Homo sapiens: one gene and its partners. The protein of the gene in region 6 purifies or fractionates together with the protein of the main gene of each other region. This does not show direct contact. Each region holds a gene or a part of one and is shown on either strand. Other genes may lie near its edges.

Region 1 (3,500 bases), on a different chromosome or scaffold from region 6:
TTAGTTTTAGTTTTAACCTAGGCAAAAGACTTGAACCACATGCAGGGATTAAAAAGTAAGTCGAAATTAGAGAAGCTACTGATCAACAAAAGACCTGAATTTTCCATTTCAATTCTTGCCATGTGTTTGCTTTTTTTAAGTTGATGCTGGAATTGAACACTGTAGTGGGTGATTTTGAACCAGTGGCCACTTAGAAACTGCATGTCCTCAGGTAAATTATATAAAGCCTCAGTTTTCCCTATCTACAAAACTGGGGCACAACCTTTATAGTATCTACTCCAAAAGGTTATTGTTACCACTAAGTGAAATACAGTGTGTTTACTACGGAGGACAGCACATAGTAGGCCCTCAGAAATGCTAACCAGCATTATGTTAATATGCTGAAGTAGACTGAGTAAGGAAGTGATTAGTGGCTCAGTCACTGGATTTCTAATTACTCTCTTGCACTGCAACGAGTTGCTCTTGCTACAAGTACTTCTTAAATTTTGCCAGAGCGTAGAAATTACCCAGTGTGTTTATAAATATTCACACTCCTAGGTTTCTCCTGATGATTCTGTCAATAAATCTGAAATGGTTTCTGGGAATCTCTTTTTAATAATAGCCTCAGGTAACTCTTGTATCCAGCATGTTTAGGAAACTGTATTAATATATCTGAAAATGGCTTCATTTTTGTTGCTAGTAAGGGCTCACTGCAAACAAATGTAGTTGGGGCAAGAAGAAGCAGAAGTCTTGGTGAGGAAGGCTTATAGCTGTGGTAAACTGAACTTATTTAGGATTTTTTTCCCTGGGAAGTTAAAACTTTAAATACCTTATCTTTTCCATCAGCCTTCTTGTCAAGAAGGTAGGTTCTGAGCATTTTCCCCATCCTTACAATAGGGATGGTAATCTTGATTTGTCCCTAACATGGTGGCAGTACAGAGAAATGAATCCTGGGTTTCCTGTTCCTAGTGTAGGGTTTTTAATAATTAGACCAGAATGGCCATGTTTCAGAATCAGTATAGTGAAGGAGATGAAGTATGGTCATGTTCTTCATGTTTATCTGCATCAAATTGATGGTAAGAGTTTAGATTTTTTTTTTTTTTTTTTTTTAAGAGGGAGTCTCCAGTCACCCAGGCTGGAGTACAATGGCACATTCTGGGCTCACTGCAACCTCTGCCTCCCGGGTTCAAGTAATTTTCGTGCCTCAGCCTCACAAGTAGCTGGGATTACAGGTGTGTGCCACTGCGCCTGGCTAATTTTTGTATTTTTAGTAGAGACAGGGTTTACCATGTTGGCCAGACTGGTCTCGAATTCCTGACCTCCAGTGATCCGCCTGTCTTGGCCTCCCGAAGTGCTAAGATTACAGGCATGAGCCACCACACCCAGCCAGATTTTAGATTTTTGAGCTCTTCCTTCACTCTTTTTTGTTGTTGTTGTTGGAGATGGATTCCAGCTCTGTCGCTCAGGCTGGATGCGGTGGCAGTCTCCGCTCATTGCAGCATCTGCCTCCTCGTTCAAGTGATTCTCCTGCCTCAGCCTATCCAGTAGCTGGGATTACAGGTACCCGTCACCACGCCCCGTTAATTTTTTTATATTTTTAGTAGAGATGGGGTTTCACCATGATGGCCAGGCTGGTCTTGCCCTCCTGATCTCAAGTAATCTGCCCACTTCTGCATCTCAAAGTGCTGGAATTTCAGGCGTGAGCTACCATGTCCAGCCCTCTTCCTTCACTTTTTAAGGTTGTTTAACGTGCTGTTTAAGGAACTAAAAGTAGGCTGGGTGCTGTGGCTCACGCCTATAATCCTGGCATTTTGGGAGTCCGAGGTGGGCAGATCACGAGGTCAGGAGTTCGAGACCAGCCTGTCCAATATGGTGAAACCCCATCTATACTAAAAAAAATACAAAAATTAGCTGGGCACGGTGGCGTGGGCTCCTGTAGTCGCAGCTACTTGGGAGGCTGAGGCAGGAGAATTGCTTGATCCCGGCAGGTGGAGGTTGCAGTGAGCCGAGATTGCACCACCTCTCTCCAGCCTGGGTGACAGAGTGAGACTCTGTCTCAATAAAAAAAAAAAAAAAGAAAGAAAAAAAGAACTAAAAGTAGTAATTTGCTGTTTTTAAAGCTAAATGAGTAGTGACTTATTTTTTTATTTTTTTTATGCCTAGCATGCGACTGTCATACAGTATGTAGTATTACTTTCTCTTCAGTGTGTTGCAAAGCTCAGGCCTAGTTCTTACCCAGTGGATTTACAGTTTAAAAAGTAGCTGGATTATTTCCTTTAAAGACAGAAAGAAACTGTTTTCCATGATAATTTAGTTACTACTTTTTCTGTGCTTCTTTTTCTTACCCTATTTTGATAACTACCTTTTCTTGGTAACTTTTTCTTACCCTTTCTTGTTGAAAAGGTCTGTAGTGGGAGGACAAAATTTAGAATTTTCTCATATAGTGAAAGAAGTTATCTTTCCAAAGACCTACACAGGCAGAGACCTACACAGAGACAGCCAGCTGTCACAATAGCTAAATATAAGTGCTCTGCTTTATTTTCAGTTTAATATATGGTAATTGCGGTATTTACATTTTTCTCTACAGGGCTTGTTCTTGTCTTAGAACTGGAAAAGATTACTACCACTGACAGTATTTGAAGAACCTCATAGCATCTTTGGCTCACTTTTCTGTATGCTTTAGGCACTGTTCTGCCATTGGAATCCTGTGAAGTCCTCCATGGGGGGTGAGGCGGGGTGGGGAGGGGCAGAGCAGAAAAGGCCCAAAGGCCAGAGAATGTCAGGTTCTATACTGGAGCTCCCAAAGGAATGTGTGGGATGCTGAAGAGGGTTACAGTGACAGAAAAGGACTAATGGTCCTGGCTCTGAAATAGAAGAAGGAAGAGGCAGAGGCATCCCAGAATGCCTTTGGTGTCTCTTGTAGAGCACGGCATCTCATTGCCTTGGTGTGGGTCCTAGCTGATTTGTTTTCTGTGTGGCACAATTTATCTAAGGCTCTGACAGGAAATTTGGCAAATGTCTCACACTATTAGTCTAGGAGTTGTTAACATTCACGAGGCAGTCTGTATTTAGCACCCCCATCACTTTCTCATGCCTCTTATCTTGCACTAGTATATTGACCAAGCATTACAGATAAGAGCAGACCCTAGGCTAGGCGCGGAGGCTCACACCTGTAATCCCAGCACTTTGGGAGGCCGAGGCGGGTAGATTACCTGAGGTCAGGAGTTCGAGACCAGCCTTACCAACATGGCCAAACCCCGTCTCTACTAAAATACAAAATTAGCCTGGCGTGGTGGTGCATGCCTGTAATCCCACCTACTCAGGAGGCTGAGGTGGGAGAATCGCTTGAACCCGGGAGGTGGAGGTTGCAGTGAGCTGAGATCACATCTTTGCACTCCAGCCTGAGCAACAAGAGCAAAACTCCATTTCAAAAAAAAAAAAAAAAATAGCAGACCCCAATTTAAAGTGACCAGTTTTAGCATATCATCTGGGTTTTGTAACCATGTTAAATACCAGCAGGT
Region 2 (3,500 bases), on a different chromosome or scaffold from region 6:
AATTTCCATACAACTCATTTTATTGGCTCTGTGTAGAATTGGTTTTCACACATTTATTTCACATATACTTCAGTCCGTTTTCCTCCTGTCCTCAAGACATGCCTAGTCAGTCAGTGCAGCCTTGAAAAGCATTGAAGTTACCATTGGCTGGTCTGTTGAGTCAAAGGCGGAGTTGTGATTGAGTTTAAGACACTTTGGGCCAGGCATGGTGAGTCACACCTGTAATCCCAGCACTTTGGGAGGCCTAGGCAGGTGGATCACCTGAGGTCAGGAGTTTGAGACCAGCTTGGCCAACATGTTGAAACCCTGTCTCTACTAAACATTCAAAAATGAGCCGGGTGGTGTGGTGGGGGGCGGCTCTCATCCCAGCTACTCAGGAGGCTGAGGCAGGAGAATCACTTGAACCCAGGAGGCGGAGATTGCAGTGAGCCGAGATCGCACCACTGCACTCCAGCCTGGTGGACAGAGCCAGACTCCGTCTCAAAAAAAAAAAAAAAAAGACACTTTTAAGGGTGAGGGGGAATGGAATTTATTAGGCGAAAAGAAAAAAAAAACTCAGCAAAGCCAGAGGGGTTCCCGTTAGCAGGCCCCCATCTCACAAATTGAATCTCGGGTCACCACACAGGAACAGGAGAGGCCAGGCTCCTCCCCCTTGCAAAGGGCCTGATCTTCCTGAGGCTCCACCCCTCCTCCTCCCAGTGGGCAGGCGCGTGGGGGATTCTTCTGGAACCTTTCCCCTAATCTTCCGGTTGCGTCTATCAAGATCATCAGGCATTAGATTCTCACGAGGAGAGTGCAGCTTAAATCACCTGCATGTGCAGTTCACGAGAAGGTTCATGCTGCTATGAGACTAATGGCACCGCTGGCCTGACAGGAGGCAAAGCTCAGGCAGTAATGCTCACTTGCCTCCTCTGTGTGTCTCTATTCCTGACAGGCCACAGACCTATACCCGCCCGCGGCACAGGGGTTGGGGACCCCTGTGGTAAGATACAAGTAGTAGCTATACTAGAAAGTGTTATGAAGGACAGATTTTTTTTTTACTGGAGACAGGATAAAACATTGACAAGGAAAATAGAATTCCATAAATGCCCCCTCTACTTGTAAACGATAGGACGTTTTTCCTAAACTCACATTTCAGTTGGACCTTAGTTTGCTTCCTGAGGGAGGGGGACAGTACACCCCCAAGGAACCTCTCCCATCAGTCCTCAGAGGTGATCATAACCACCAGCTAAAATTCCAGATTACACTTTCTTAAATATGGCAGTACAGAGAGTTAATGACTGATTATAAGATAGACTAAAGAAAGAGGCTTATTTACTGTATAGAAAACTAAAAATTTATTAGAAAATCTCCACAAGAATTCAGAAGAAACTGAGTGGTAGGTTGGAGAGCAGGACTAAAGATATGAAAAGGAGGGAGACTTCCTTTTGAATGTGCATTTGAGGCTCTATATTTAACAAAATTGTACTAACTTAGGTGTAATTTTTAATTTTATCTCTTTTGTTAAAAACTTTATTGTTCTAGTCCTCATCATTAATCAGTAATTTTAAAATCTTATTAAAGTTTTTGCCAGGTGAGCCTTTAGTTTACTTTTCTTTTATTATCCTTATTCAATATTGAAATATGTTACAGACCTTTCTCATAAAATGAACTGAACAGCTTTCCCTATTCTGTTTTTCTAGAACATGTTGTATAAGACAGGAGTTATGCAAAAGTGTGGAAAAATCACATGGAAAATATCTGAGCCTGGAGACTTGAGGGAGGGAGGTCTTTTTGGGTATCATTTCAATGTCTTTAATTTGTCTATTCTAGTTTCTGTGTTTTGTGCTAATTTTGTCATTTCATGTTTTTCCAAAAACCCTTTTGGTTTTGTTTCAAATGTATTAGCATATGGTATTTAATATTTTTATTATGCATTATGAAATATACATGCAAACAAGACTACATGTGATATGTACACATATGTAATATGTACACATATGTAATATGTCTGCTGTTGAAAAAAATAATAGTAAAATGAAGGCCCATATACCCCAAACCCATGTTAGGGCCACCATGTGTCCCCACTCCTCTCCTTCTATCAATTCTCAGCATTTTAAATGTTCTTCCTGTTTGTAAAGAAAATTTTTTTCTAGAGACAGGGTCTTGTTAGGTTACCCAGACTGGTCTCGAACTCCTGTCCTCAAGCAATCCTCCTGGCTCAGCCTTCCAAAGTGCTGGTATTGTAAGTGTGAGCCACTGCACTTGTCCTTCTTCCCATTTTTTACCCTCAGAACATTCTTGTCTAGTACATATTCCAGTCTCTCTAATGTGGGAGATTTTATTGTACATTCAAATTCACCTATCTTGACTATTATAGAAGGAAATTTTCTTGAAGGTGATTGCAACTTGACCTTTTTGTGTTGCATGCTTGTAGAACATAGACATTTAAATTAAATGATGGTGCATTGTTCAGTTTTCTGTGTGAATTGTATGTAAATACTATTCCTTATCCCTGATCCCCAAACTTTTATTATGTTCTGTAACTTTTAGTGTTTGTCTTTAAGATTGTTGCTTTATCTCAATGTGATTTTCTAAATTACTGCCTGACTTGTGATTGCTTGTATGAGGTTTTTGTCCTGTAGGTGATGCTAGCTAGAGTCACACCTCATTTTGATAGAAGGTAGAGAAACAACTGAAATTCTTTTCAGTGTGAATATAAGATACCACGTTTTATAATATTCTTCATGCTTACTTTAATGGTCTACATAAAAGCAGTTTATCTAAATTTTAGATAATAAGTAGATTGCTCTGCTTTGTTCTTAAGAAAAAGCAGAATATTCTATGTTCTCATAAAGACTTTCAGATACTTCTTGGAGTATTAATAATATTTTTTGAGGACTTATTTGCTTTAGCACTGTTTTTCACAAAAAATCCTAGGACAGCAGGTACCGTTGCAATCCCTATTTTTGCAGAGAGTAATCAGGATTAGCAAGATTAAGTAACTTGCCTGCAGTCAACACTTGGTAGGTGGTAATGAAATAGTAGATGGGGTGAGAATGAAACCCAGATCTGCTAGACTCAAGAGTTCCTAGAACTGTATTATATTGCCTTAGACTACTAGAGCATAACATAAAACCACAGATGTCAAAATTAACTTGTCTGATGAGTGTGAAATGAGGCACCCACTAATGTATCATAGTAATACATGCCTAAATATTTAATACCTTTAATTTCAGTCTGTGGCTGTGCCAACCAGTGTCGTCACAGTTACTCCTGGAAAGCCATTGAATACTGTAACTACCCTGAAGCCTTCAAGTTTGGGAGCATCATCCACTCCTTCAAATGAGCCCAATCTTAAAGCAGAGAACTCAGCAGCTGTTCAGATTAATCTTTCTCCGGTAAGCTCTTACTTGCACCTTACATAAATCTTGTTCCTTGCAAGTTCTTTTGAATTGTTTGCTCACTAACACTTGTGTTTGCTTATATTTACATTTTCATATTTAGACAATGCTAGAAAA
Region 3 (3,226 bases), on a different chromosome or scaffold from region 6:
TTTTAGTAGAGACAGGGTTTCACCATGTTGGCCAGGCTGGTCTTGAACTCCTGAGCTTGTGATCCACCCGCCTCAGCCTCCCAAAGTGCTGGGATTACAGGCGTGAGCCACTGCACCCAGCCTTAAGGTCTTATAACTAGTAAATATCTGCATTAAAGAACGAGTTGAATGAAAATTCTGATAAATTCCTACTTAAAGTGTATCCAAAGAAAACGGAAAAAGTCTAGGAGTTAGTGATATTAGATTCAGAAGAATGAGCTTTGTAATTCTTAAAAATTAGTCTCAGAATAGAAAGGATTTTAAAAGTAATTGAGTAAAGTCATAGGAAATGTGACCATATAAAGGAATGGCTCTAAATGTATTAATCCAGAAGGAAGCAACAGGTTAAACAGTAAGAGGTAAGAAACAAAAAATAAGGAACAAGAGAGAGAGAGTGACAGGGAGAGAGAGACAGAGCGGGGAAGGAGAGAATGAGAAGGAAAATCAGGAAAACGAGGAGAAACAGAATTAAGGAGGTGATACTGGAATAGTATCAGACCATTCTGAATCAATTTAAGAATTGCCATGTCTAATTCTTATATGGAAGATTTGAAATACAAGGATATTGAAAGGAATAACAAATTATAATGAATGCATAGAAATCCTTATGTAATCCAAGGTCATTAATTTGAAGGAAGACATCAAGAAAATGTGATCTAGAAATAGAGGTTGAGATTGCTCCATTTACAAAATTATTATGCTCTATAATCTTCCCATATGCAAATATTTCATATTCCCTCTTTTGTCCCATGGACATATTTCACAGCAACAACGAATCAAGTGCTGACCTAAATGGGGTATCTGTTAAAACTTAGTATATTGATATCCTTCACCCCACTCCAGGAACGTTCGCTACGCTAGGACTGCATCTTGGGAACAGAATTTTAGAGATGATCATCTCTTACATCAGAAGCAGGATCTAAATGATCCCTGGATGCCCAATTTCCTGACCCTGCTATTGTTGTGGGTGGCAAGATAAGAGGAGTTGCATCACAGATGAAAAAGTAAGGCCGAAGAAGACCAGAGAAGAGTTGGTTGAATGTGTAGATATAAGATCCATCTGTGACATTGTAGAATGAAATTTCACCGGCTTCATAGTCCAAGAAAATCCCAATGCAGCGAGGACTTTCCAGTTGGAGAAGAGGCACTGATGGGGAGGCAAGGACCATGTACTCATTCCCTTTCAGCAGCCACAGGGCCCAGACCCCATTCTCAGGAGATGGCGTGGTTTCCCCCTTTCTTGGCAGTGTGTCTTGACAGACCCCTAAACCCCACTCTGCTCCTTCTCCCACCAGAACCTCCCAGTAATGCCTCCCTGATGAGAAGCTCTGCAAACCCAGGATGCAGGGCCATGTGTCAAATCGCTCAGGGTTGTTGGGGACATCCCTCCATGGTTCTCCATCCTGCACACTGCGCAGGTCGGCGGTCAAGAGCAGACTCGGGTGCGCCGTGGCGGGATCCAGCTTTACATCCACTGCGGAAAGAATGTGGTGGACCAGGTGAAAGGAAAGAAAGGACTGGTAGAAACTTAGGAAACCACTGAAAAGAATAGTCCCACAGTTCCTCACTTTTCTCTCTCTATTAACTCCTAGAGAAAACAAATCAGTATTTCACCTTACAGGTGAAATCTTCTTTATTACTTTATTATTCTTATTCTTTATAACTTTCTGGTATATTCCACTGTTACCTCTGCGTAACCCAGAACTCTTTAACTTTCCCAAAAAAAAACAACTATTGATGACGACAAACCAAGTGAATTATCATTTAGTTTCCTTTCATTTACATCTAAAGCATTTGTGTGTGTGTGTGTGCGTGAGAGAGAGAGAGAGAGACAGAGAGACGGGGTCTTGCTATGTTGCCCAGGCTGGAGTGCAGAGCTATTCATGGGCATAGCCGTGGTACACTACAGCCTCAAACTCCTGGACTCAAGCAATCCTCCCGTGTCTGCCTCCCCAGCAGCTGGGACTACAGGTGCACACCACCATGTCTGGCTTACATCCAAAGCATTTGAGTGCACTTAGGAGGATCTTCTGCATTTAACATAAAATTTATAAACCCCTTAGGAATTTTTTTCTTAAAAATCTATAGAATTTTATTAATATTAAATCCACTACTTCCAAAGTTATATTACTGTGGTAGGCGGAATTCTAAGATGGACCCCATGACCTTCACACCCTGGTGTTAGCCTCATGAGTATGTTACACTATATGACAAGAGAGAGATTATCAAGGTGCGTCTAATCAAATCCCACAAGTCCTGTAAAATCAGAAAGTTTTCTCTGGCTATTGGGTTGGTGGCAGCAGGAAAGGTCAATAAGATGTGGATTTGATATCTCTTTGCTGGCTTTGAAAATGGAAAGGTCACATGAAGAGACAAACGAGTGACCTCTAGAGCTGAGAGTGATCTCCAGAGCTGAGAATAGCCCCCAACCAACAGCCAGCAAGAAAACAGGAATCTCAGTACCGCATTTGCACAGAATTGTATTATGCCAACAACCTGAATAAGGTTGGAGGTAAGGTTCTTCCCCCGACCTACACAGAAGCCTGGCCTGGCCTGGCCAACACCCATATTTGGGCCTTGAGAAAACCTAAGCAGAGGAGCCAGCTGATCCCACTTGGATGTCTGGTCTTCAGAACCATGAGCTACTAAATGGTATGGCTTTAAGCACATAAGCTTGTAGTTATGCGTTATATAACAATAAAAAATACTGATACTCTGAAGTCCCAGTGAGATTGATGAGACATTTGACCCATATACATAATAAATAAATACATCTAGATATGAAACCTCAGTGAAGGGGGGATGTAAAATATTCAGTGCATTTCCTTATTAGCATTGCTTATAAGTAGTAAGTTAATAAATAATATGGTTTGGATGTGTATCGCCTCCCGGTCTCATGTTGAAATGTGATTCCCAATGTTGAAGGTGGGGCCTAGTGGGGGGTGCTGGATCATGGGTGCAGATCCCCCATGAATGACTTAGTGCCATCCCACTGGTGATAAGTGAGTTCTTTATCCGTTCATGCAAGAGCTGGTCGTTTAAGAGGAACCTGGGGCCTCCCCACTTCACTGCTTCCCTCTTGCCATGTGATACGCTGGCTCCTCCTTTGCTTTCCACCATGACTGTAGGTGTCCTGAGGCCTCACCAGAAACAGGTGCCAGCACCATGACTCCTGTACAGCCTACAG
Region 4 (3,500 bases), on a different chromosome or scaffold from region 6:
AGGGAGGCAGGCTCCCCACACCTCTGGACATGGAATTTGGGACCCCACTTCAGCCCGTCTGCCTGGTCCGCTGCTCCAGGTTCAGGCCATCCTCAGCCTCATGGGAGGACCCCTTCTCCCTTCACGCGTCCCTCCCAAGTCATCGTCCTCTCCCAAGGTGGGAACAAGTAGGTGCAGATGACAACGGCAGGAGGGGTGTGCGCCGCGTGGGTGAGCTGTGATCCGCGGGGTGGGGGTGACCTCCAAGACCCAGAAACATGTGCTGGCAGGAAAGTGGCTCTTCCTCAACTGCAGGGAGGGCGTTCCCGACGGCCTCTGATTCAGGCTCTCAAGGTACAGAAACCTTCCAGGTAATGGATCCTGGGCTGGCTTCGCCACCCAAGAGCCTGTGCTCCTCCTGTGAGCCCAACGTGTCCTTGTGCACAAAGGAGTGGGGCACTGCCCCGCAGAGGTGCCAGTTACCTGCACCGAGGCCCGTGCCGGGCCAGACTGGGGCTAGTGCAGCTCATCGGGGTCCCGCGGCGGCCGGGGTCGGCCTGGGTCCATGTCATCGCTGCCACTGTCCAACTCGAAGCCACGCCCACCCGAGAAGGTCTGGGGCATGAACTGGCGGAAGATGCTGACACTGCCATGCCAGAAGGTGGGTTCTGGGAGCCGCCCCACCACGCTCCACGCGCGAGTCTCTGGGTCATAGGCCTCTACCACGTCCGAGAGTTCAAATGTATTGTCGTATCCCCCAGAGACGTACAGCTTCCCCCCAAGGACGGCCAGGCTGCCCCCCACATGTACCTGTGGGCCAAAGGGATGAGTGAGTGGAGGTCAGAGGAGAGGGTAGGGCAGGGCCCCACCTGGGGAACCACTGGAGACAAGGCATGCCCTGTCAGTACCCCAGAGGGGTGGCCTTGGCTCTCCCAGAAAGCAGCAGAGAGGCCAACCCCTTTCCAACACCCTGCCTAGGAGAACGGGCCTCCCCGGAGGCAGCTGGGCCTTCCCTATGGTGATGAGGGTGCCCGCTGCAGCGCCAGGCCTCCCCGTGTGCAGGTCGTGCCGAGCAGCGCTTCCTACGTTCTCTCTCAGAATCTCTGCAGTGGCCCTCTGGGCTGAGCAGTGCTGTTCTCCCCATGTTACAGATGGGAAAACTGAGGCTTGCATGGCTGACAGTGGCAGAGCTGGGCTCTGAACCGCGAGGCTGGATGATTCCTTCCATCTTTCCCAAATTCGCTATGACTATGTGCAGCTTACTGCGGGGAAAACAGAACGCTGGGTCTCTTAAATGCCAGGACATTAAGCTGTGATGTAAGCTGTGAGGCTGGATGTCACGGAGTGTAGGTTTGGAAATGTTAACAGACACACAGGAAAGAAGGCTGTAGGCAATATGATGTGTACCTCAGACTAACACTGCTCACATGGCCAAATGGCACTGAAGCCTCCCTGTCCCATCACTGTCAGGCTGGGCACCCCTCTTCTCAACAAGCCCAGAGAGAAGGGGTGGACCCTGGTTGTCCTATTCAGAACACACAGCAAGTGCTCAACACAAGTATTCCCACAGTGGGCTGGGCATGGTGGCTCATGCCTGTAATCCCAGCACTTTGGGAGGCTGAGCCAGGCAGATCACAAGGTCAGGAGATCCAGACCATCCTGGCTAACACAGTGAAATCCCGTCTCTACTAAAAATACACAAACAAAATTAGCTGGGCGTGGTGGTGGGTACCTGTAGTCCCAGCTACTCGGGAGGTTGAGGCGGGAGAATGGCGTGAACCTGGGAGATGGAGCTTGCAGTGAGCCGAGATCGTGCCACTGCACTCCAGCCTGGGTGACAGAGCGAGACTCCGTATAAAAAAAAAAAAAGTATTCCCACACTGACTTCCTCAGGAACCAGCTGGGCGTGGTGGTTCACGCCTATAATCCTAGCACTTTGGGAGGCTGAGACAGGAGGGTCACTTGAGGCCAGGAGTGTGAGACCAGCCTGGGTAACACAGCAAGACCCTGTCTCTATAAAAATTTTAAGAATATCCTTTTGTATCTACATATGAGAAAAAAAATTACTGGGTGTGGTGGCACACGCCTGTAGTCTCAGCTATTCAGGAAGGTGCGGTGGGAGGACTGCGAGTCAAGGAGGTGGAGGCTGCAGTGAGCCATGATTGTACCACTGCACTCCAGCCTGGGTGACAGAGCAAGACCCTGTCTCAAAAATAAAAAAGGTAGGTCACAGACCTCATGCTGACTCTGCTCCGGCCACATGGGCTGCTGGTGTATCTAAGAACACGCCAGGGTGCCCTGCTGCAGGGCCTCTGTACCTGCTGTCCCTCTCTGGAACAGGTGTCCCCAGATGACTGTATGCCTTGCTCCCTCACTTCCTTCTGCTCTCTGGCTCACAGCAGATACTCAATAAACACTGCTCAAATGTGTACTAAGCTGTGTAATCATAGGGTATTACTTAACATCTGTGTCTCAGTGAGCCTTAAGTGCAAAATAAGGGTAAGAGCAGCCTTCTATTAATTGAGATGAGACCCACCCATCATGGCTGTGGATCCCAAACACTCATCACGATGACACTTGGGTTGCAAAATCAGGACCAGCCTGTGCTTCCAATGCTGGCCCGCCTGAAAATTTACCTGATTCATGGACGGGATCTTGTCCCATTCGTTCCTCGTCGGGTTGTACACGTCCACCTCAGCGGAGTCATCCCTGTGGAGGGGGCAGCAGGAGGACAACTGCTCAGAGCGAGGAGGAAGTGCACACATGCAGGGCTGGAGCAGAGTCCTCCCCTGGGTCACTGACTCCTCCAGTGACCTGGATCTTTCTGATGCCATCCAGCAGCACCCTTGCCAGGTAGGCTCCATCCCCAGCTCTTAGGAGCCAATTTCAGCCCCCTGTGCCCACTCAGCCAGGGCTCCAGGGCCAGAACTCTCACTCCCAAACCTGAAGATCAGGCTTTTGAGTACTTGAAGCCCATTCAGTGCCTCCCCATCACCCAGTACCAAGGTGGCTGTCCCCCACCCCCCAAGCCTACAGTAGCTCCCTTGAGATCTTAAAGAAGCCTCCTTGCTCCACTGTGCATCCCCACAGGCCCTGGAACACTCCTTGCCACTGTCCCCAATATCACTATGAGCCCCCAACCCTGTCCTGTTCACTACTATGTTGAAGTACCCCTCACTTTGGGGTCAAGACCCTTCAACTTCATCTGACACCCTTTATATCCCCACAGTAAAAGGCTCAAAGGCACAGCCTTGAAAAGCAAAGATGCAGGCCAGGCACTGTGGCTCACGCCTGTAATGCAGCACTTTGGGAGGCCGAGGCTGGTGGAGTGCCTGAGGTCAGGAGTTCGAGACCAGTCTGGCCAACACGATGAAACCCCGTCTCTAGTGAAAATACAAAAATTAGCCAGGTGTGGTGGCATGTGCCTGTAATACCAGCTGCTCAGGAGGCTGAGGTAGGAAAATCGCTTGAACCCGGGTGGCTGAGGCAGGAGAATCTCTTGAACCCGGGAGGCGGAGATT
Region 5 (3,500 bases), on a different chromosome or scaffold from region 6:
TCCAGCCTAAGCAACGGAGCAAGACTCCGTCTAAAAAAACAAAACAAAACAAATCTCTCATATGACTGATGTGTTCTTAAAAATCTTGTATAATAGTACGCTAGGCTGAAACAAAACCTCAATCAAGTTTTCCATGTTTATCAAGATCATTTGATTAAACCTTAAAGAGGCAATGACATTTTAATTTAATTTAGTAATCAGCCTGAGATATAATCTTCAAATTCCAAGTCTTGGATAAATAGCCCATAAAAACATGTACGTCGTACAGAGACTGCATTTACACACATAGATTTTCTCATAGGTTAATGAGCATACAAATCACCTTGAGGTCTTGATAAAATGCAGATTGATTCATGTCAAGTGGGCCTGAGATCTTACTTTCCTAAAAAGCTTCCAAGTGCTACCCCTGCTGCAGGTCCATGGACTGTATTTTAGTTAAAAAGGATATACCTTGATTTCATCATTACACATTGTGTGCATGTATCAAAATATCACATGTACCCCATAAACATGAACAGTTACTATTATTAATTTTTTAAGTTCCTAAAAAAATTTTGAATTTTTTTTTTTAAAAGAATGAATGAAGGCCAGGCACAGTAGCTCACACCTGTAATCCCAGCACTTTGGGAGGCCAAGGTAGGTGGAGTTCAAGAGCCAGGAGTTCGAGACCAGCCTGGCCACATGGAGAAACCCTGCCTCTATTAAAAATACAAAAATTAGCCTGACAAGGTGGCGCATGCCTGTAATCCCAGCTACTGAAGGTGGCTGAGGCATTGCTTGAACCCAGGGAGCAGAGGTTGCAGTGAGCAATGATCACACTACTGTACTCCAGCCTGGGCGATAGGGCGATAGAGTAAGACTGTCCAAAAAAAAAAAAAAAGAGAAGACAGACAGACAAGGAAGATGGACGGATGGATGGACAGACGGAAGGACAGATGGAAGGAAGGAAGGAAGGAAGGAATTCTTCAATCAGCAGGAAGGGTTTGAGACAAAATTTCCAGTGGCAGCACTGTTTTGATTTTATCAAAAAAAGCTTTATCTCAAAGAACATATAGGGATAGGAATTATGTTTTGCAAAACAGGTAACTCAAGAGTGGCTTTAGTAATGTAACGGATGACAAGAATACATGTGACATTTTAAAATAAAATTGTTTCTTGTAGGCAAAAGTGTTTGCAGTCCTCCTAAAAGGTGACCAAAAAACCCTATTTGTGTCATCTCTTCGACAAAATAGTGGTCTACCTTATGCTCAGGTGGTCCTGACATTTGACCAGGTTATTTTTAGTCTCGTGTATTTTGCTAATGAACTAACCTTAAAGGCAGGTGTGTGAAAACTATATCTTACAATTAAAAAGAGGGATACTCTAAAAGGGAGAGTCAAACTCCAACTGTCTAAAAGACTGGACAAGTAATATAAATGATAAGGAGGCTAAGAGAAAGGACTTAATGAGAAGCTGGAATGGCTTAATGAAGGGAGAAGCACACGTGCACCATCAGCAGAGTGACACAGTGCAATAATGTAGGACCAGTGTTCCAGGATCTTCCTCTTTTTCAAGAAACTGGAATTCTTTTTTAATTTTTTTTAAATTTTTTCCCCCAATGTGGATAAAAACTTCAAAAATTTAAAGATAGTAAATGTTCCTAGAGACCATTAGGCTGTAATCTGTAATCAAAAGCAATGTCTACATATCGGCATATTTCATATCACTGAAGATTTCATATTTTAATTATCAGTATCTAATGTGTTGGGAATTGCCACCAAAATGGGTAACATAGCTTTAACAGGAAATGTTCTGTACAAATATTAATACATCACCTTTTCAAATGTCCAGTGCTTAGAACCTCTGATTAAACCAGCTATAATTTCTGCAACACATCGCTGGGTGCTTTCATGTGAATCTGCAACCAAATGTTCTAAATGGGGCTTCAGAACTGGCAGGAAGGCATCATCAAAATTCCTGAATATACCCTATAAAAACAAAGACTGTTCTTCAGTACTCAAATGACTATCATCTCGATTATAATTATGCTTGTAATTATTCTGTACATTACTAACGTGCTTAAAAGCTCCAAGCACACTCCCCTTTAGAACTGCTTTAACAATTGCGGTAAGTTAAAATAGTAAGAATACTGTCATTTTAAATATCACATTAAAATGTAACCAATGAAACAAACATTAATAATCTCTCTAAGTATCACACCTCAAAAAAAGCAACTAAACATAAAAAACGCATGCAGTTTTGGGTATTTTTTTTCCTTCTAATGCCAATTACAACAAACATTAAAGATAAATACAGTCATCCCTAGGTGTATGTGGGGAAATGGTTTCAAGATCCCCACCCCAAAATACCAAAATGTTCAAGTCCATGACATAAAATGGTATTGTATTTGCATATAACCTATATACATCCTCCTGTATATTTTAAATCATCTTAAGAGTACTTTTAGGACCTAATACAATGCTTACTAATTGTATTATATATTAATGCTATGTCAATACTGGTTGTAATGTCTTGTTTAGGGAATAACGACAACAAAAGTCTGTACATGTTCAGTGTAAATTCCAGTGCCATTTTAGATCAAGGCAGATGGCTAGCTTTGATCAAATATTTATAAGTTATGAACCTACGAACTGAATAGTTACTAAGCATTACAAAGAGGATATGTAAACAATATAGTTACCTTAAAGAGGCAAAAACGTCGTGGATTAAACTTATCTTTTCCTTTTCTGTCTTCTAATGATAGAAAAGTAATTAACTGCTCAACAAATTTAGGATCAGAAAAATGATCAAATATAATCTGTTCTGCCTATAAAGTTAAAAAAAGAACAATATTCAGCGTTTAAAATCCACTTAAATACATGATTCTGAAAAAGTTAAAATTACAAGATTTTGATAGTCAAAAGCAGGCTGTATTTTTGTTTCCATGAATTCTTAGTTCTCATAGACTACAGTGATTTCTAAAACCAAGTACCTCCCTCTAAAAATGCTAAAACAGGAAGTTTTCCTTCAGATTCTCAAGTTTGAATCCTATTTCTCACACTGTGAATTAAAAATCAACAAATGTTCTGCTTGGGAAATGAAGACTGAAAGCCACTGTAACACCTGGTGTGCAATTTGTTAAAATCCCCAAAACTATAAGTCAAGCCCCAACAAATCACTTCCATATTTACCTAACACCAGAAGTTAAAAGGCAAACTGTTCAGAATCAGAAAAAGTTACAATACCATTAACTCAAGGACCAAGTACATAAACTTAAAAACCCTTTCTCAACTTTCTTTTTTTTCTTTTCTTTTTTTGGGACAGGGTCTCACTCTGTCATCCAGGCTGGAGTGCAGTGGTGCGATCATGGCTCATTGCAGTCTTGCCTTCCTCGGGTCGGGTAATTTTCCCACCTTAGCCTCCCAAGTAGCTGGGACTACAGGTGTGCACCACTACGCCCAGCTGATTTTTGTATTTTTTGTAGAGACAAGGTTTTGCCATGTTGCTCAGGATGGTCTCAA
Region 6 (3,289 bases):
GTCATTCCTTTAAGTCCCTACCCCTCTTGCCAATTTCTCCCCAAATGAAGACAGAGACTACATCATAAGCATATCATAGCTCCCTGTAGAGCCTAGCTTAAAGTAGACACCTACTAAATCTAATTTGGATAAATGAACTAACATAAGGGACTCTGAGTAAATAAAGTTTACAGCTACATTTCTATGCTGCTCCTCAATACTAAATATAGTCATGTGTTACTTAACAATGGGGATATGTTCTAAGAAATGCATCCTTAGGCAATTTTGTCATGACGCGAACATGATAGAACATACTTACACCAACCTAGATAGTATAGCTTACTACACACCTAGGCTACATAGTATAGTCTATCGTTCCTAGGTTACAAACCTGTACAGCATATTACTGTACTGAATACTGTAGGCAATTGTAGCACAATGTTAAGTATTTGTGTATCTAAACATAGAAAAGGTAAACTAAAAATACAATATAAAAAATTAAAAATGGTACACTTATATAGGGCACTTACTATGAATAGAGCTTGCAGGACTAGAAGTTGCTGTGGGTGAGTCAGTGAGTGAGTGGTGAGTGAATGTGAAGGCCTAGGACATTACTATGCACTACTGAAGACTATATAAACACTATATACTTAGGCTATAGTAAAATAATTTAAAAATTAAGTAATTCTGCTGCTATGTTATGATGGCCACAGTGTCACCAGGTGACAGGAATTTCTTAGCTCCATTATAATCTTATGGGACTACCATCATATATGCAGTCTGTCATTGGCCAAAATGTTGTTATGCAGCATACAACTGTACTTACATTGATGAAAACAAAGATGTTTGGTGGGTACTAAAACAATCCTGGCATTAACTGTTCATCTGATTGTTTTAAAGCAGTATTAAGCAGTACTTGGATAAGTGATTTGCTGAGAGGAAGGGAATATATAGAACATAAAAATTCCGCTAGCCTTGTGGGGATGGGGGTGGGGAGTAGTGCCTGTACTTCAAGAGCACCATGCTAAGCCCATCCTCATAATACCAACTCCAGTCTCTTTAAAATTGTAACCCTCAACAGTATAAGGTTAGAGTCAGCACACATTTTCTATACAGCTGCTTGACCCTCATTTAGCCTATATTGCCTTCTTCTCTCTTCGCCCTGTACACTCTCTTGTGGCTTTGAAAAATACAGTTGTCGTTCAAGTTAGAAATACATACATCCTTAATGATTCCTTCTCCTTCAACACCCAGTAATTGACCCAACTCCTGTCAATTCTACCTTTAAAGTATATTCTCTAATATATCAATATTCATTGCAGCATTATTCATAATAGCCAAAAGTGAAAGCAACCCAAATGTCCATCAGCAGATGAATGAATAAACAAAATGTGGTATATTGATCCAATGGAGTATTAGTCAGTTTTAAATGGAAAAAAGTACTGATACATGCCATAACATGGATGAACCCTGAAAATATGCTAAATGAGAGGAGCCCGACTCAAAACACCATGTATTATATGATTTCACTTGTATGAAATAACTAGAATAGGCAGTAGATTAGTAGAAACTAGATGAGTGGTTGCCTAGTGCTGGGCAGGGGAGAGGTTCTGGAGAAGTGGGGAGTGACTACTAATGGATACAGGGTTTCTTTTTGGAGTGATGAAACTATTCTAAAATTGACTGCAGTGGTGGTTGTACAACTCTGAATATGCTAAAAGCCACTGAATTGTATAGTTTAAATGGGTGACTTGTCGGGGGTGGGGAGGACGGGGTTTGAGGCAGTCTCACTCTGTCACCCAGGCTGGAGTGCAGTGGTGGGATCTCTGCTCACTGCAACCTCTGCCTCCCAGGCTCAAGCAATCCTCCCACCTCAGCCTCCCGAGCAGCTGGGACTACAGGCATACACCACCATGCCTGGCTAATTTTTGGAGAGACGGGGTTTCACCATGTTGCCCAGGCTGGTCTCGAACTCCTGGGCTGAAGCCATCTGCCCACTTTGGCCTCCCAAAGCGCTAGGATTACAGGCACGCACCACCGCACCCAGCCTAAATGGGTGATATTGTATGGTTTATGAATTACATCTGTTATAAAAACATTTTTATTGCAGTTTAAAAATCTATATTCTTTCAATCTCCATTGCTACTAACTTAGTCCAAGTTACCATCCTCTGTTATTAGAGTACCACAAAGCCCCCCAACCAGCCTCTTTGCTTCTACTCTCACCTTCTTCCAACCCATTCTCCAGATAATAATCAGAGTAACCTTTTAAAAGTTTAAATTAGGCCAGACGTGGTGGCTCACGCCTGTAATCCCAGCACTTTGGGAGGCCAAGGCAGGTGGATCACGAGGTCAGGAGATCAAGACCATCCTCGCTAACACGGTGAAACCCTGTCTCTACTAAAAATACAAAAAATTAGCCGGGCATGGTGGCACGTGCCTGTAGTCCCAGTTACTTGGGAGGCTGAGGGAGGACAATCTCTTGAACCCGAGAGGCGGATGTTGCAGTGAGCCTAGATTGTGCCACTGCACTCCAGCCTGGGCGACAGAGCAAGACTCCATTTAAAAAAAAAAAAGTTTAAATTAGATGTGATTTTCCTATCTACAATTCTTCAAGGACTTCACATTACACTTAAGGCCAAACCCATCCTCCTTATCATGGCCTTCAAGGAACCATACACTATGGTCTCTGCCTACTTCTCCAACCTTATCTTAAGCCATTCTCTTCCTGGCTTTAAATACTCCAAAGGTCCTCAAAGAAGCCAAGTTCTTTCTGAGCATGAGACCTTGCATACGCTCCACCTAAGAGGCTCCTCATCCCACTCTTTGCCTGGACTTAATCCTTCCGGTCTCAGCTTCAATAGCACCTCCTAGGAGAGGTCTATCATGATCCCCCAATTAATTCAAGACCCTTTATTCTAATAGCACCACTGACTTTTTTCCTTCATAGCACTTCTTCACAATTTGTAACTTTATATTTGTATAATTTGTTTATTGTCAATCTCCCCTGCTAGACAGCTCCACGAGGATAAGTACAGCAGGTCCTTGAATAACATCGTTTTGTCCAATGTCGTTTTGTTACAGTAAGTCCTCACTTAATGTCATCAATAGGTTCTTAGAAACTGCAACTTTAAGCAAAATGACATGCAAAAGGTCTCCAAATAACATTGTTAGTTCAATGTCATTTCATTATAATTTTTTTTTTTTTTGAGACAGGGGCTCACTTTGTTGCCCAAGCTGGAGTGCAGTGGTGTGATCATGGCTCACTGCAGCCTCAACCTCCTGGGCTCAAGCAATCCTCCCACCTTAGC
Region 7 (3,500 bases), on a different chromosome or scaffold from region 6:
GGTCTAGCTGGACTCAAGGAACTACACAACTCTGTCAGCCACATCCTCCAGCCTGAAGGTCTTCACTGCACCCCAGCATGGAGACATCTTCAGGTTGGTCGTCTCTGCAGCTGTGGGTAGAAGAGCTGCCTGGAACGTGCCTGCATTTCTCTGATTTCCTTTTTCACTCAGACTCCTCAGCTTCCACCTACCAAGCTGGGGTGCTCTCCTGGCTTCTCCTGCCAGGTGGCCCTGTCCTCTCTGCCTTGTCTCACCCTTGGGCATCAGCGTGCCAGGGGCTGGCCAGCCCACATGCGGGATCTCCACCCAGAACCTTCCTGTCTGCCAACCCTTTGCCAACTCTCAGGGTGGGGAAGGAAAACCTTGCTCTCCCCTCTTTCCAGGGCTGACCGCTCCTTTTCCTTGGTTAATTTTCCAGAGGCTGCCGGTAGGCTGTGTCCGATGTACACCCAGCTGCCTGAAGTAGAATTCACAGCAATGACGTTATCCCTGCCAAGTCCCACTGCCACTGAACAACGGCAGACTCATTTCCATGAGCCGGAATGAGAACCCAGATTGGAATCCGCTGTGGTTGTTAACCCTGTCTTTTTCCTCTAGGGGGAAATTGTCATTTTAATGAAACCAAGGCACAGAAATGCTAAACAACCATCCCAATGTCATCAAACCGATCATCCACAGAAGCTGGAGACTAATATTGGCACTCAGGCCTGAGGCCATAGAAAATCTCCTTTCCCTCGGATGCATCTTCCTGGGTTGAAGTCCAGCTCCTAGGCTCGCTCATGTGGCCCCCTTGAGCAGAGCATGAAGACCTGGATAACTGGGTCCAGGAAGAGGCTGCCCAAGCTCTCAACTGGCCTCCCCTGTAGGGGGTGCTGCATCTGCCTGGCAGGCTGAGGACCAGGCAGAGCCCAGATCACTGGGTCCCCTTGGCACAGACCCAGGGTCTTGGAGTGCTGCAGTTTGCAGCCACCAGCGTGCCTTCCTCCAGGGCCCCACAGTTGATATCCAGATTGTCCTCGCCGTCCTCAGGGAGTCTGGGAAAGGATGGGAGGGGAAAGAGGAGAGGTGTTTAGGGTGCCGGGGCCTTGCTTCCCAGCCAGACCCTCCAGCGTGTGTGCCTGTCACCTCTACCGGCCTGGGCACTGAGTGAGTCACTGCACTGGTCAGCCACGTGGCACTGGATGAATCCCCAAACCTCCCTGGGCAGCTGACCCCGCATCTGTAAAATGGGGGTGACAACCCTGCTTGGGTGAACGTGCTGGGAACCCAAATAAAGAGTGAAGCGACAGGGTCTAATCAGGCACCAGGCCGCGAGCATGGGCGTGGGCTGCTTTCCAAGTGGCATTCCAGGCTAGGGGAGCAGCAAGGAGGTGGAGTCTGGGGAGAAATGGAGGATCCAGAACAGCAGAGGAGGGAGAAAAGCCCGTGGTCACTCACAGCTGGGGCGGGAGTGGGGCCTCGTCGATCCAGTGCCAGCCCTGGGGGCCTCGCCAGGCCCCCACCCAGGAGTGCCTGGAGACTGGGTATCTGCCCAGGAAGTCCTGAGGGAGAAAAGTAAGCTGGTCACTCCCCTGGACACTGGCGTGGCTTGCCTGGGGCGTACGGATTCCCTGGGGCTTCCACAGGATCCCAGCTGGCCAATCCAGAAGGATCTGCTCAAGCCAGCACTTGCAGAACAAAAAAACCTTGAAAGCTGGATTGGATGCCTGCTGGGTGCCAGGTTCTGTGCTCAGGGCTGGGGGCCAAAATGAGGGTGACCCCGTCTCAGCCAAAGGGATGTGAACGCCAAACACCACTAAGTGATGCTCAGTGGGCATTGAGTGGGCAAAGAAACAAGGAAGCTCAGAAAGCGAGGGAGGTGGTCAGGCACGGTGGCTCATGCCTGTAATCCCAGCACATTGGGAGGCCGAGGCTGGCAGATTACCTGAGGCCAGGAGTTCGAGACCGGCCTGTCCAACATAGTGAAACCCCGTTTCTATTAAAAAAAAAAAAATTAGCTGGGCATGGTGGCGGGCGCCTGTAATCCCAGCTACTTGGGAGGCTGAAACAGGAGAATCGCTTGAGCCCAGGAGACAGAGGTTGCAGTAAGCCGAGATTGCGCCACTGCATTCCAGCCTGGGCTGACAAGAGGGAAATTCTATCTCAAAATAATAATAATAATAATAATAATAATAATAATAATAATAATAATAACACACGCAGATGTGCAGGAACAACAAAAACCAAAGTAAGTGTGCTGGAGAGGTACTAGAGGAGACTTTTTTCTTTTAAATATTTGCCCTCAATGTCACACTATTTTTAACAATGAATTAAAGCAAAAAAGACAATGTTTTAAAGTATATATTTAAGATTTTTTTTTTTTTGAGATGGAGCCTTGCTCTGTCACCCAGGCTGGAGTGCAGTGGCACGATCCTGGCTCACTGCAGCCTCCGCCTCTCAGGTTCAACCGATTCTCCCGCCTCAGCCTCCTGAGAGGCTGGAACTACAGGCATGCACCACCACACCCAGGTAATTTTCGTATTTTTAGTAGGGAAGGGTTTTGCCGTGTTGGCCTAGGCTGGTCTTGAGCTCCTGGCCTCAAGTGATCTGTCCATTTTAGCCTCCCAAAGTGTAGAATTAGTGGTGTGAGCCACTGTACCCGGCCAAGATTTTTTTTTTTTTTTTTTGAGACAGAGTCTCGCTCTGTTGCCCAGGCTGGAGTGCAGTGGCGCGATCTCGGCTCACTGCAAGCTCTGTCTCCTGGGTTCACGCCATTCTCCTGCCTCAGCCTCCCGAGTAGCTGGGACTACAGGCACCCGCCACCATGCCTGGCTAATTTTTTGTATTTTTAGTAGAGATGGGGTTTCACCGTGTTAGCCAAGATGGTCTCGATCTCCTGACCTCGTGATCCGCCTGCCTCGGCCTCTCAAAGTGCTGGGATTACAGGCGTGAGCCACCGCGCCCGGCCAAGATTTTTTAACTTGGAAAAAAAAGTTTAAATCTTTTAAGTCCCAGGGTGGGGACGTGGTGGAGGGGGCAGTGATGCCGGCACGGCCCGCATCAGCTTGTTCTTTCTGAAATGTCGTTTGGTGCTATGTGACAAGAGCAGCACCACCACTCCTGCTCAAATGGGTGATTTCACTGAGAAATAAATCCAAGAATATAAAGGGAAAAAAATGAACTTATCTAAAGATAACACGGTGCTATTTGTGAAGAAAAACTGGAAACTCCCCAAACGCTCAGCAATCAAGAAATAACAAGGTAAATTATAGGATGTCAACATGATGGAAAATTATAGTGCTATTAAAAATGACAAGTGTATAGAAAATGTCATTATGCAGGAAAATGTAAATATGAAATCATGCCATGTAAAAAAAAAAAGACTACACTAGCAAGTACATATCACTCACAACAATGTCAAGAAGCACATATTCACACTGAGGCAGGTTAGGAGCAGAGCGGTATAAATGAATTTCGCATATGCTCAGTTCTTCTTCCCTAAGAAAATGGTTTAAGTCAAC

The links.
Region 1: the proteins of TAF7L (region 6) and ARK2N purify together in Homo sapiens (affinity purification with mass spectrometry; 2 studies listed by BioGRID and IntAct, with this or other methods). This does not show direct contact.
Region 2: the proteins of TAF7L (region 6) and TAF4B purify together in Homo sapiens (affinity purification with mass spectrometry; 2 studies listed by BioGRID and IntAct, with this or other methods). This does not show direct contact.
Region 3: the proteins of TAF7L (region 6) and TRIM58 purify together in Homo sapiens (co-immunoprecipitation; one large-scale study listed by IntAct). This does not show direct contact.
Region 4: the proteins of TAF7L (region 6) and KLHL21 purify together in Homo sapiens (co-immunoprecipitation; one large-scale study listed by IntAct). This does not show direct contact.
Region 5: the proteins of TAF7L (region 6) and PSME4 purify together in Homo sapiens (affinity purification with mass spectrometry; 2 studies listed by BioGRID and IntAct, with this or other methods). This does not show direct contact.
Region 7: the proteins of TAF7L (region 6) and KLRG2 purify together in Homo sapiens (co-immunoprecipitation; one large-scale study listed by IntAct). This does not show direct contact.

The regions. Positions count from the first base shown.
Region 1 is NC_000018.10:46,243,534-46,247,033, forward strand, and holds part of ARK2N (protein ARK2N), read left to right. Parts: intron 1-3,500. UniProt on the Homo sapiens protein: AMPK substrate important for exercise capacity and skeletal muscle function.
Region 2 is NC_000018.10:26,271,445-26,274,944, forward strand, and holds part of TAF4B (transcription initiation factor TFIID subunit 4B), read left to right. Parts: intron 1-3,218; coding exon 3,219-3,380; intron 3,381-3,486; coding exon 3,487-3,500. UniProt on the Homo sapiens protein: Cell type-specific subunit of the general transcription factor TFIID that may function as a gene-selective coactivator in certain cells.
Region 3 is NC_000001.11:247,874,187-247,877,412, reverse strand, and holds part of TRIM58 (E3 ubiquitin-protein ligase TRIM58), read right to left. Parts: intron 1,514-3,226; coding exon 924-1,513; 3' UTR 1-923. UniProt on the Homo sapiens protein: E3 ubiquitin ligase induced during late erythropoiesis. Directly binds and ubiquitinates the intermediate chain of the microtubule motor dynein (DYNC1LI1/DYNC1LI2), stimulating the degradation of the dynein holoprotein complex.
Region 4 is NC_000001.11:6,592,870-6,596,369, forward strand, and holds part of KLHL21 (kelch-like protein 21), read right to left. Parts: intron 2,689-3,500; coding exon 2,616-2,688; intron 1,242-2,615; coding exon of another isoform or gene 1,239-1,241; exon of another isoform or gene 790-1,238; coding exon 496-789; 3' UTR 1-495. UniProt on the Homo sapiens protein: Substrate-specific adapter of a BCR (BTB-CUL3-RBX1) E3 ubiquitin-protein ligase complex required for efficient chromosome alignment and cytokinesis.
Region 5 is NC_000002.12:53,890,994-53,894,493, forward strand, and holds part of PSME4 (proteasome activator complex subunit 4), read right to left. Parts: intron 2,807-3,500; coding exon 2,681-2,806; intron 1,968-2,680; coding exon 1,815-1,967; intron 1-1,814. UniProt on the Homo sapiens protein: Associated component of the proteasome that specifically recognizes acetylated histones and promotes ATP- and ubiquitin-independent degradation of core histones during spermatogenesis and DNA damage response.
Region 6 is NC_000023.11:101,271,046-101,274,334, forward strand, and holds part of TAF7L (transcription initiation factor TFIID subunit 7-like), read right to left. Parts: intron 1-3,289. UniProt on the Homo sapiens protein: Probably functions as a spermatogenesis-specific component of the DNA-binding general transcription factor complex TFIID, a multimeric protein complex that plays a central role in mediating promoter responses to various activators and repressors.
Region 7 is NC_000007.14:139,452,674-139,456,173, forward strand, and holds the end of KLRG2 (killer cell lectin-like receptor subfamily G member 2), read right to left. Parts: intron 1,542-3,500; coding exon 1,438-1,541; intron 1,035-1,437; coding exon 914-1,034; 3' UTR 17-913; downstream 1-16.